2 separate regions of the Homo sapiens genome follow, and region 1 is linked to region 2. The links come from fine-mapping of genetic effects on gene expression. A gene starts in region 2. The other region holds a variant in brackets. All regions are shown on one strand. Distances are from middle to middle.

Region 1 (5,375 bases), 69 kb after region 2:
GCATGTTACTGTACTGAATACTATAGACAGCTGTAACACAGTGGTAAGTATTTGTGTATCTAAACATATCTAAACATAGAAAACGTATGCTAAAAATACTGTACCTTTGTTGACCAAGATGCCATCATGCAGCACATAATATAGCACTATGGAGCCCTTTTAAATTATCTACCATATGCGGTTTTAGCTTATGTTCTTCATTGTGACATATTTTACTACTAAATGTATGAGCTATAAATGTATAAAATGTATAAATGTATAAAATGAAATGTTATTCAAGTTTGCATAAGCTCTAGAATCTTTTCCAGTTCATCTCTCTGATGGCTGGTGACAACGTCCCAGCTGCCAAGTCATCTGTTTCCTTAAAACACTGGGTGCTCAATTAACATCAATACCTCCTAATCAAATCACATTCCTTCTGTTTATGGGAGACAAGACCCTAAATAGGACAAAGGGAAAGAACTGCCTATTAGGATAAAATCCAGGCAAATCTAGAAAGAGATGTGATTTATTTCAAAAACATTCTCCTTGATGGACATCCCAATTACCCTGATTTGACCATTACCACATTGTTACCCACATATCGAAATACCACATGTATCCTATAAATATGTACAATTACTATGTGTCAATTTAAAAAATCTGTTTTTCACCACCCTTACGTTTTGTACAAAAAAAATAAAAAATAAAAATCTAAAACAAAAAAAAACAAAAAAAACTTCTCCTTTCAAGGCAACTACTACTAATCTAAATGGATAACTTCCCCAAACACGTTCAAATAATGTTCAAGACAGAACAAGCTTCCTAAAGAATGAGAATCTGTGTTTGAGAAAAATAATCCGAAATTAGTTCACTGAAACTCTCAGCCTGAACTATATCACTTCCTTATTCCTTCAGTATCAGTGTCTGCCTATCTCTAAGATTCAGGCAATTCCTGCATTTGTTCAGAAAAGCACAGACACAGTTCTTAGGCTGCAAAAGGGCCAATCCTTGAGCCAAACACATCCATCATAACTGAAATTTTGGGTGGCACTAACTGAAACAGTATTTGCTTTAGTCACTTAACCATAAGCTGCATTAAATTATTTGTAGGCCATTTATTTTGTTTGTTTCCAGAATTGGAAGCATAAGAGGCCTGAATCAATTAAGAGGTGGTTCTACTTCAGAGTGAACCTACCTAGCTACGATTTCAAATCCCCAAGCATCCTTCTCTTCCACAAACAGTAACACCAAAAGGGTTAAAGAGGTCTGTGTTCACGCAGATCCCTCTATGCATTTCATTAGGGCCCTTCTTTTCATGTCTGTCTATAAGGATATCAGCCTGGCCCGCACATATACATCAGCAACACCAGACACTGAAACAAGCAAATCTACTCTCCTTGGAAAGAGATGAGTGCCTTTCAAAAACCAACAGAGTTAACTAAGTATATAATTCTGTGCAAGGGTATTTACTAAATACAAGAGTATAACACCAGACCACTAGTCTACTCTTTTGATCTACAACCTAAAAGCAAGAGGACACAGCAAATTGCTTGTGTGGCCACTTAACAAGTAGCAACAGGCCAGTCCTGAGTTCCTTCATACCTTATTCTCAACTGCAGAACACCTACCATGCTTTATTCTAATTACCTGTTTATAATCATCTAAAGCAGGAAGAACCATCCTATTTCATCCTCAACACCCAACACAATGCCTGACACTTACCAAGGGCTTAATGTCATAGATTTGTTTGTTTTGTCTGAGAATCCATTTAGTGGGGACAGCTACCTATAGAAAGCTGTAAGCAAACCCACTGAGTACTTTGAAAAGTCCAGTATCATGATGAATAGTTTAAGAGCAACCATCACTCCTAAAAACCTCCTTCATGTGGATAAAAGAATAGGACCCTTCAGCCAGGTGCAGTGGCTCACACCTGTAATCCCAGCAGTCTGAGAGGTGGAGGTGGGCAGATCACCTGAGGTCAGGAGTCCGAAACCAGCCTGGCCAACATGGCGAAACCCTGATTCTATTAAAAATACAAAAAATCAGCTGGGCGTGGTGGTAATCCCAGCTACTCGGGAGACTGAGGCAGGAGAATCGCTTTAACCCGGGAAGCGGAGGTTGCAGTGAGCCAAGATCACGCCATTGCACTCCAGCCTGGGCAACAGAGCGAGACTCCATCT[C/CA]AAAAAAAAAAAAAAAAAAAAAACCCAAGAGTAGGACCCTTCCATTCATCTTGTGGAATTTAACTACCATAGTCTCAGCTCGAGCAGTGAGAAGTCCAGCTAGACTGTCTTCACCTCACCTACACTTCCTAGCTTTCTTCTATTCCCTGTCCTCCCCAGATTTTCACATAAGTGTCTACGCATGAATGCATACTGACAACCTTTAAATTCCTATAATAAAAATGGTTTCATCACAAAAAGACCAACAAAACTAAATAACCTTTGTTACTGCTACTACCAGGAGAGTGGATAATAGAGAAGAAAACCGACTAAATCACTTTTCAGGACGAGAGGGAGAGAGCCTCTGCACCTCTGAAACAAAGTGTCAACTACAGGACAGCCAATGAAACAGGCTGCATCAGCCAAAACCAGAGCAGACACACCCCATTATTCATCTGACCCAAATGAACACTTCCCCCCTCCATCTTTCCTACAAAAAGTCACCACAAATAAACTTGCTACTGTCAAAACGACCAAAGACCAGCGCAGTAGGAAAGGGTGCTGAAGTTGATCCCAGTACACTGTTAGAAGTCCATGGCAAACATCACCGTCTTTGTTTTCCAACATGTCACTATCCAAGCTCTTTGCTTCTCCCACTAAATCTTTAGCTTTTTCATCCATTTGACATCTCTACCAGATTTGAACAAGGGCATGGAGAGAAATGAAGTTGAAAGCAGATGGTTTTACTCCTGGATTCTTGCACACTGCTCAGTGATGTGGTGGAATGCAATATGGAAGTGGGAACAGCACGAGAATGAAGGCAGGCTTTGCCACTCTGACTAGCTCTGTGACCTTGGCAATCCACTCGATCTTTCTGAGCCTTGAAATGCTCGTCGGTAAATGGAGGGGGGTGGAGTTGGATTAGATAATCTTTAACATGCTTTCCAGTTCTAAAATGCCAGGTTTTAACTGCTGAAAGACCAATGATGTGAGGGGGATGGGTGGTTGGTGTGGTGGTTTTTATTTTATTTTAAATTATATGTGAATTTAATTACGCAAGTGCCCCTTGGACCACTATAACTGCAGAACAAAAAGTAGACTGAACTAGCCAGGGGCTCTGAGGACCTACAGTGCAGTCTTAGCAGTTCTCTAAAGAAGAGATTAAAAGCTGTAGACTGACAGTAGGAGGGAGGAAGAAAACCTGTTTCAGAGCTGGAGCAGCTGCCTCACTGACAGTTAAAGGACTTCAAGTTAATCGAGTTTTCTTTTGTAATTAATACAACAGCATCTGCATATGGGCTGCCAGAAGGTAACAGCATGGCTTCTCAGCTGGCTCACATTAACCCTGCCAACTCTGGCTGGAGGAAAAATCATATCAAATTGTCTTAAGTGCAAACCAAGGCTTCTGTTGTTGTTGTTGTTCTTGGTGGTTGTTCTTAAATACAGATTTTGATTTTTGTTTACTTCTAAACAAAAGTTTCAAGCTAGATGGAAGAGAAGAACAACTAAAGCAGCAACCTATTTTGGTTTTTGTTTTACATAACATTTATTGAGCCCTTTCTATGTATTGATCACTTTATTTGCTTCATTTCATTTAATGCTCACAATTCTACAAGACAAGGACTATTATTAACTCCATTTAAAAATGAAGAAATGGACCAGGCATGGTGGCTCACGCCTATAATCCCAGGACTTTGGGAGGCCGACATGGATGGATGGATGGAGCTCAGAAGTGCGAGACCAGCCTGGGCAACAAAGGGAGCAACCCCCGCCGTGCCTTTGTTTCTACTAAAAATTTTAAAAAATCAGCTAGGCATGGTGATGTACTACTCAGGAGGCTGAGGTGTGAAGACTCCTTGACCCTGGGGAGGTCGAGGCTGCAGTGATCTGTGATCACGCTACTGTGAGACTCTCCTGGGTGAGTCACCTGCCTCACAAAATAATAATAATAAAGATGAGGAAATGGATGCTCAAAAAACCAAACCAGGCTGGGCGTAGTGGTTCATGCCTGTAATCTCAGCACTTTGGGAGGCCAAGGCAGGTGGATCACCTGAGGTCAGGAGTTCGAGACCAGCCTAGCCAATATGGTGAAACCCCATCTCTACTAGAAATATAAAAACTAGCCAAGCATGGTGGCCGACGCCTGTAATCCCAGCTATTCGGGAGGCTGAGGCAGGAGAATTGCTTGAACCCGGGAGGCAGAGGTTGTAGTGAGCCGAGATAACGCCATTGCACTCCAGTCTGAGTGACAAGAGCGAAACTCCATTTCAAAAAGAAAAAACAAGAAACAGCTCAGGTTTCTCCATTTCTCTCAGCAGTGAACTGCAGAGCTCTGGGGGCCAGTAGACAATGACCCCTACGCCACATTGTTTTCCAGTCTGGGGTCAAATGCAATTTAGTAACTGTAGGACCTCAATGTAAAGCAGACTGATACAATCCCTATGAAAGTTGCCCCAAACCATGAGGAATAAAGCATATGGAGAAAACCGCAGCATTACCACTGGCTGGTACACACTTTCAAAAAATGTTATTCTACCTGAGATCTCTAAAGTCTCTTTGCTAAAAGAAACAGTAGGCTCTTTTCAGAGAAATTCTTAGTGCTCTGCTCAACAGTCAGTGTGTATTACTGTTTGGGTGACTACTCTGAAAAGAGAAGATGGGAGGGAGGAAATACTCGTGACCTGTTTCTGTTGCTAGTGACTCTTTAAGATACATACTTTATTTAAATTGTTTTTGGGGTAATGTCAATCGATTTGTAGCAACACATTCTCCTTCTTGCCTATTTTCCATCCCATCAGGCTCAGAAAACAATAGCCCAAAGTATGGTGCTTTGGCATGCTGAGCACTTTGAACTAAAGGAGATTGGAAGGCTTCAGAAGCAAGGTTGCTCTCTGACCTTCTCCTAGCCTCCTGTCTGCCTCCCCTTTTTCTCCCCTTAAGCTACTCACAGAAACCAGAATTCCTCTTCCTCAAGACCATAGAAACTAGAAACCCTGGCCGGGCACAGTGGCTCATGCCTGTAATCCCAACACTTTGGGAGGCCCAGGTGGGTGGATCACTTGAGGTCAGGAGTTCGAGACCAGCCTGGCCAACATGGTAAAACCCCACCTCTACTAAAAATACAAAAATTAGCCAGGCGTGGTAGCATGTGCCTATAGTCCCAACTAGTTAGGAGGCTAAGGCAGGAGAATCGCTTGAACCTGGGAGGTAGGGGCTGCAGTGAGCCGAGATAGT
Region 2 (5,327 bases):
ACATGGAAGGCACTTGAAAATCTGCCTAGCTCAGAGAAAGTACTTTATAACCGTTAGCTAACTTATTATCTCCACTTATTCCTCCTCTTAACCTCTAACTACAGATTGTGTGCTTGGCAATTTTCTTTTCTCCCCCTCCCACTTTTTCTCTAGATCATGTCCTCTATTCACAAGGTTTCAATGAGCCCATCTGAAAGAATACAAATCTCTCCCATAAATCCAAACCTGTCTCCTGACCCCTAGACCACATTCAGCTTCTCCAAAGCTGTCTTTTTCCAATGACCTTACACTTTATCAACAGCATCATTATTTGCTCTCACCATTTTTCACGTCACTCTCTTACTCATCAGCACTATATGCAATCTATTCTCAAATTTGTCATCCCTACCTCCTCAATGTCTTTTCTATTTCCTAGCTCAGGCCTTCCTCATCACTCATATAATCTACCCCTCCAAACTGGTTTTACACTCCTCCAAAACTCAACTCCACATTGCTGTCAGACAAACCTTACAAACTCATAGCTCTGATTGAGTTACTAAGTCAAAATCCTTCAATGGATCTACCCTACCTTCCCTAAAAAGCCCAAACTTTTGAGCTAGGCATTCGAGAACCAACACAAAATAGATGGCACCGATCCCATCCCCTGGCATTCTCTTTATCCACAACCTGGCCAAGCAGGAAAATTCTTTAGGTCTTCTCTCACTGATGCCTACTGAACATCCCTCCCATATTTTCATACTTCAGCCTGTTGATATTTTACCAACCTTAAAAATCCACTTAAGGCCGGACACTTTGGGAGGCTGAGGTGAGTGGATTGCTTGGGGCCAGGAGTTTGAGACCAGCCTGGCCAACACAGTGAAACCCCATCTCTGCTAAACATACAAAAATTAGCCAGGCATGGCAGTGCGCACCTGTAGTACCAGCTACTCAGGAGGCTGAGGCACGAGAATCACTCGAACCCAGGAGACAGAGGTTGCAGTGAGCCAAGACTGTGCCACTGCACTCCAGCCTAGGCGACGGCGCGAGGCTGTCTTAAAAAAAAAAAAAAAAGTCCACTTAAAACTCCAACTCCTCCACAGGTTTGGGGGGTTTGTTTTTCCTGGTTGACTTCTTCCTTTACCCCAAAGACATTCACTCTCTGTTCCAAACATTCTTAGCAACTGGTAATGACTCTTTCAGGCCTGCCTACATTCTGCAATATCCTACAGCTATTTTACATAATCACCTTAAACTCCCTGCTTAATGAAAAGCTCTTTAAGGGCAAAGACCATTTTTTATGTATCTTTGTAGCCCTTTTGACAATTAACATATCTTCTGACTTTTTTAAAAGAGAAACCTAACCATTAGGAACAGCAAGTAGTGCAGAAGTCCTTGAAAACCTCAGCTACCCCTAGAATACCATGCTAAATGTCACCTAATGGAAGTCCAGGAGAAAGGACCTACAGTTTTTAAATAATCTGGATAGGAGGTAAGGAGGCAATGACTCAAAGTGAGGGCGACAAAAGACAACTCCCTCCGTATTTCACACCTCAGTGTTTTACACACCGTCCCTAGCAAAGGACCTTAAACAGAAAGTTAGGATAATTGGATTCCAGTGCCAACTATGCCATTTACTTGCTTAGTGCCTAGCCATTACCCTCTGAGCCTTTATTCATCTGTTCAATGAGAAGCTTCTACCAGAAGATCTCCAAGTCCCCTCCTTAGACTTCTCTTTTCTACAAAAAGATTAACCTGTTCAGGCACCCAATTCCCTGACAAGTCTTCAAAGCTTCATCCCAAGCCTCACTTCTTCAAATTCCATCTCCAACAACTCTGGTCCTGGCTGCTCTGGGTACTTCAACACCTGCGATCCTCATAATCAAAGCTAAGTCACAAACTGTCTGTCCCCATCGCTCCATAATTGATATGAAAGTGGCCTCGGGAGGGGCAATGCAACCTACTCGGGCAGAAGGTGGGCTTCCTCCTCCCGCTGCTGCTCCACATCAGGTGTGCCCAGTGATCCATAGCCGAACAGTGTCCCTAAGATTGCAGCCTGACTCCCCTCCCGCCTGGGTTCCCTCCTTTCCAGTACCCAACGCTTCTCTAAAACGCAGCCACAGCCCTTCTCACCCAGCAACTCGAGGTTCATCCCTGCGGACTGTGGCCGCCCGGTCTCAGCTCCGGCAACAACACCTTCTCCCCGGCCGGCTTCAGCAACTTGCGTCTAAGTGGTGGACGCCGCGAAGAGACTGGCGCAAGCTCCGAAGACTTTCGGCCTTAGAAGGCCCCGCGGCTTCCGCTTTCTTCCCCCGCCTTCCTTGTTCGTTTCAGGTGGGCTGCCCAAATATATGCCTGACCAAAATCAAGCATACACTCTCTCGGAAACAATTAATTATGATCTTTGCTGAGGTACAACAATGTTATCGTCACTAGGGACTTTAAATAGCGCGACAATTTAAGATTATTTGCTCCGGGAACATGTAGGTGAGGTAGAAATTCCAGGCATACAGTTAACCTACTAGTTCTTGCCCTGTTGTGTGTTCAGCGGCGTTGTCCGGGCGGGCTACCTCAGACTCCGCAGGAAAGGTTCCGGACAAGTCCTGCTAATGCAAGAAACCAGGGAAGGTCGTCCCCTAGTGCTCGGGTGTGTAGCGCCGCTGACCTCACCAAGGCGCGTACTTACCCTGTATGTAGGTGGCGTTGCAGGGTGTTTCGGTCTCGTGAAAATTATTTCTCATTTGTAAAGATATGCTATTGATCCTACAGAAAGGTACGACAACATATGTTAGGCCTGTCTGTGTTAAGATAATAAAAACCTTATTATCTAAGGTTTTACCCTTTACCAAACAGTGTTGACAGGGACGCTGTGAAAAAGACTGTGAAAAAGAATTGGAATGAGGGGTGGACTGAGTTTCCCGGAGCTCAGTCATACAGAACTCCAATGAAATACCCAAAGCAATTAGAGAAGTCCAGTTACTGGTATCTAGCGAAAGAGCAAATTTTATATGAACAAATTCCTACTATAAATGCTGTGGCTCATCAGAAAAAGGAAACAACGTCAAAGGCTCGCTGCAGAAAATAGTACTCGGGCTAGGTCTCCGACAATGGAAAAATACACATACACAAGTTTATTAATCGCAGTATTGTCTGCAATTGCAAACTTTTGGAAACAATAATGAAACTTTTGAACTAGGGAGCCCAGCATTTTCATGTTGCCCAGGGCCCTGCAAATTATGTAGCTAGTCCAGTCTGCCTCTACTTGACAAATTTGCAGAAAAAGCAGCCTCATTCACACAGTGCACCCTGTCCCTGGGCCCCAGTTGATTGCTCTTTCAGTAAGCCCCTGACCTAAGCTCAACCCAATTAAATTCCTTTCCCAAGAATTTGGAATGGGAATTAAGTGGCCCCCACAGTCTGACACATCGATTGAAGAGAGTAAATGTGAATTAAGGAGCTATTTAAAGCGCCTAATAATAGATGGACACCATGGTAGTTGGCTGCAGGTTGCAGAATGAAGCAGAAGTCCAGAAACTAGTCAAAGATAATACTTGGTGTATCCAATTAGTTCCCAAGAACATATTACATTAATGTCTTCTATTTCCATTATCCTTGGACCTTTATAAAGTATGTCTTTTGCAGCCGGGTGCGGTGGCTCACGCCTGTAATCCCAGCACTTTGGGAGGCCGAGGCGGGCTGATCACCTGAGGTCGGGAGTTCGAGACCAGCCTGATCAATATGGAGAAACACTGTCTCTACTAAAAATACAAAATTAGTTGGGCGTGGTGGCTCATGCCTGTTATCCCAGCTACTCGGGAGGCTGAGGCAGGAGAATCGCTTGAACCCGGGAGGCAGAGGTTTCAGTGAGCCAAGATCGCACCATTGCACTCCAGCCTGGACAACAGAGTGAGACTCTGTCTCAAAAAAAAAAAAATCCACAGTTTTTCTACTCTCCAAAGACAAAGGAAAACTTTGCATAAAGGCAAAAGCAACAAGGAAAAATATCGTGTGAAAACCACAGCCTAGTTTCCTCTAAATTCTCTGACTCTACTCTCAAATCCAAAGTAATCATATATATATGTATTTAGAGATATGGTCTCACTCTGTTGCCCAGGCTGGAATGCAATGACGAAACCATAGCTCACTACTGTAACCTTAAATTCCTGGGCACAAGTAATCCTCCTGCCTCAGCCTCCCAAATGCAGGGATTACAGATTACAGCTGTGAGCTACCACGCCTGATTCCAATGTAATAATTTTTACAGATTGGATGCTAATATAGCTAATGAAGTTAAAATTAAAGCTGTTAAAAATAAAAATAGTGAGGCCAGGTGCAGTGGCTCACACCTGTAATCCCAGCACTTTGGGAGGCAGAGGCCAGGCGTATCACGAGGTCAGGAGTTCGAGACCAGCCTGGCCAACATGGTGACACCCCGTCTATACCAAAAATACAAAAAATAGCCAGGTGTGGTGGCGCATGTCTGTAATCCCAGCTACTAGGGAGGCTGAGGCAGGAGAATCGCTTGAACCCAGGAGGTGGAGTTTGCAGTGAGCCAAGATCATGCCATTGCACTCCAGCCTGGGCAACAGCAAGACTTCATCTCAAAATAAATAAATAAATAAAATGAAAATAAAAATAGTGTTAGAAAACCCCTGAGGAATTTTCTTTTCTTTTCTTTTTTTTTTTTTTGAGAGGGAGTCTTGCTCTTGTCGCCTGGGCTGGAGTGCAGTGGCGCAATCTCAACTCAGCACCCGGCCCACTGAGGGATTTTCAGTACACCTTTTTCCTCACACCTCTTTTTCCCTTTCTACCCCTCCAATCCTATTTGGACTTTCTTTTTTTTTCTTTTCTTTCTTTCTTTTCTTTTTTTTTTTTTTTTTTGAGACAGAGTCTCACTCTGTCGTCCAGGCTGGAGTGCAGTGGCATGATCACAGCTCACTGCAGCTCAACCTCCAGGCTCAAGTGATTTTCCCACCTCAGTCCCCCCAAGTAGCAGGGACTATAGGCAGGCACCAACATGCCCAGCTAATTGTTGTAGTTTTTGTAGACAGGGATTCACCATGTTGCCCAGGCTGGACTCGAACTCCTGGGCTCAAGCTGTCTGCCCACATCGGCCCCGCAAAGTGCTGCCATTACAGGTGGTGAGTCACCATGCCTGGCCTTTTTCTTTTAAAAAAAAAAGAAAGTTTAAATAACCTGTAAAAATTAGAGAGCAAGCCATGGCACTTCAAAAAAAGGGAAGTGATCTATTTGACAACGCCAGATCTCATCAGTAATCAGTAAAATGCAAATTAAGTCACAATTAGATATTTACAACGACAAAGTTGACAAACTAAAAGAAGAGCACCCAA

Alleles and levels. Alleles are on the strand shown, and positions count from the first base shown. SD is a standard deviation of normalised expression in the study named.
As copies of CA replace C in region 1, the expression in naive CD8 T cells of the gene that starts at base 2,233 in region 2 goes down (moderate effect, 0.61 SD a copy in Schmiedel 2018).

Evidence for each region. PIP is the estimated chance that this variant, and not a neighbour inherited with it, causes the effect.
Region 1: its variant is the best candidate, but not a certain one, in a credible set for the expression of RBBP5 in naive CD8 T cells (Schmiedel 2018, PIP 0.60).

The regions. Positions count from the first base shown.
Region 1 is chr1:205,188,453-205,193,827 of GRCh38, forward strand. All of the region lies in intron 1 of DSTYK (dual serine/threonine and tyrosine protein kinase), which reads right to left. Among named protein-coding and RNA genes, the nearest start is that of DSTYK, 21 kb to the right of the region's middle. RefSeq lists an enhancer at 3,107-3,651. The variant C/CA (reference allele first, on the strand shown) is at 2,163.
Region 2 is chr1:205,119,746-205,125,072 of GRCh38, forward strand. It overlaps RBBP5 (RB binding protein 5, histone lysine methyltransferase complex subunit), which reads right to left and starts at 2,233. Exons shown (of 14, transcript NM_005057.4): 1 at 2,110-2,233. The coding sequence starts at 2,128. RefSeq lists enhancers at 293-851, 2,015-2,194, 2,335-2,554 and a silencer at 2,916-3,210.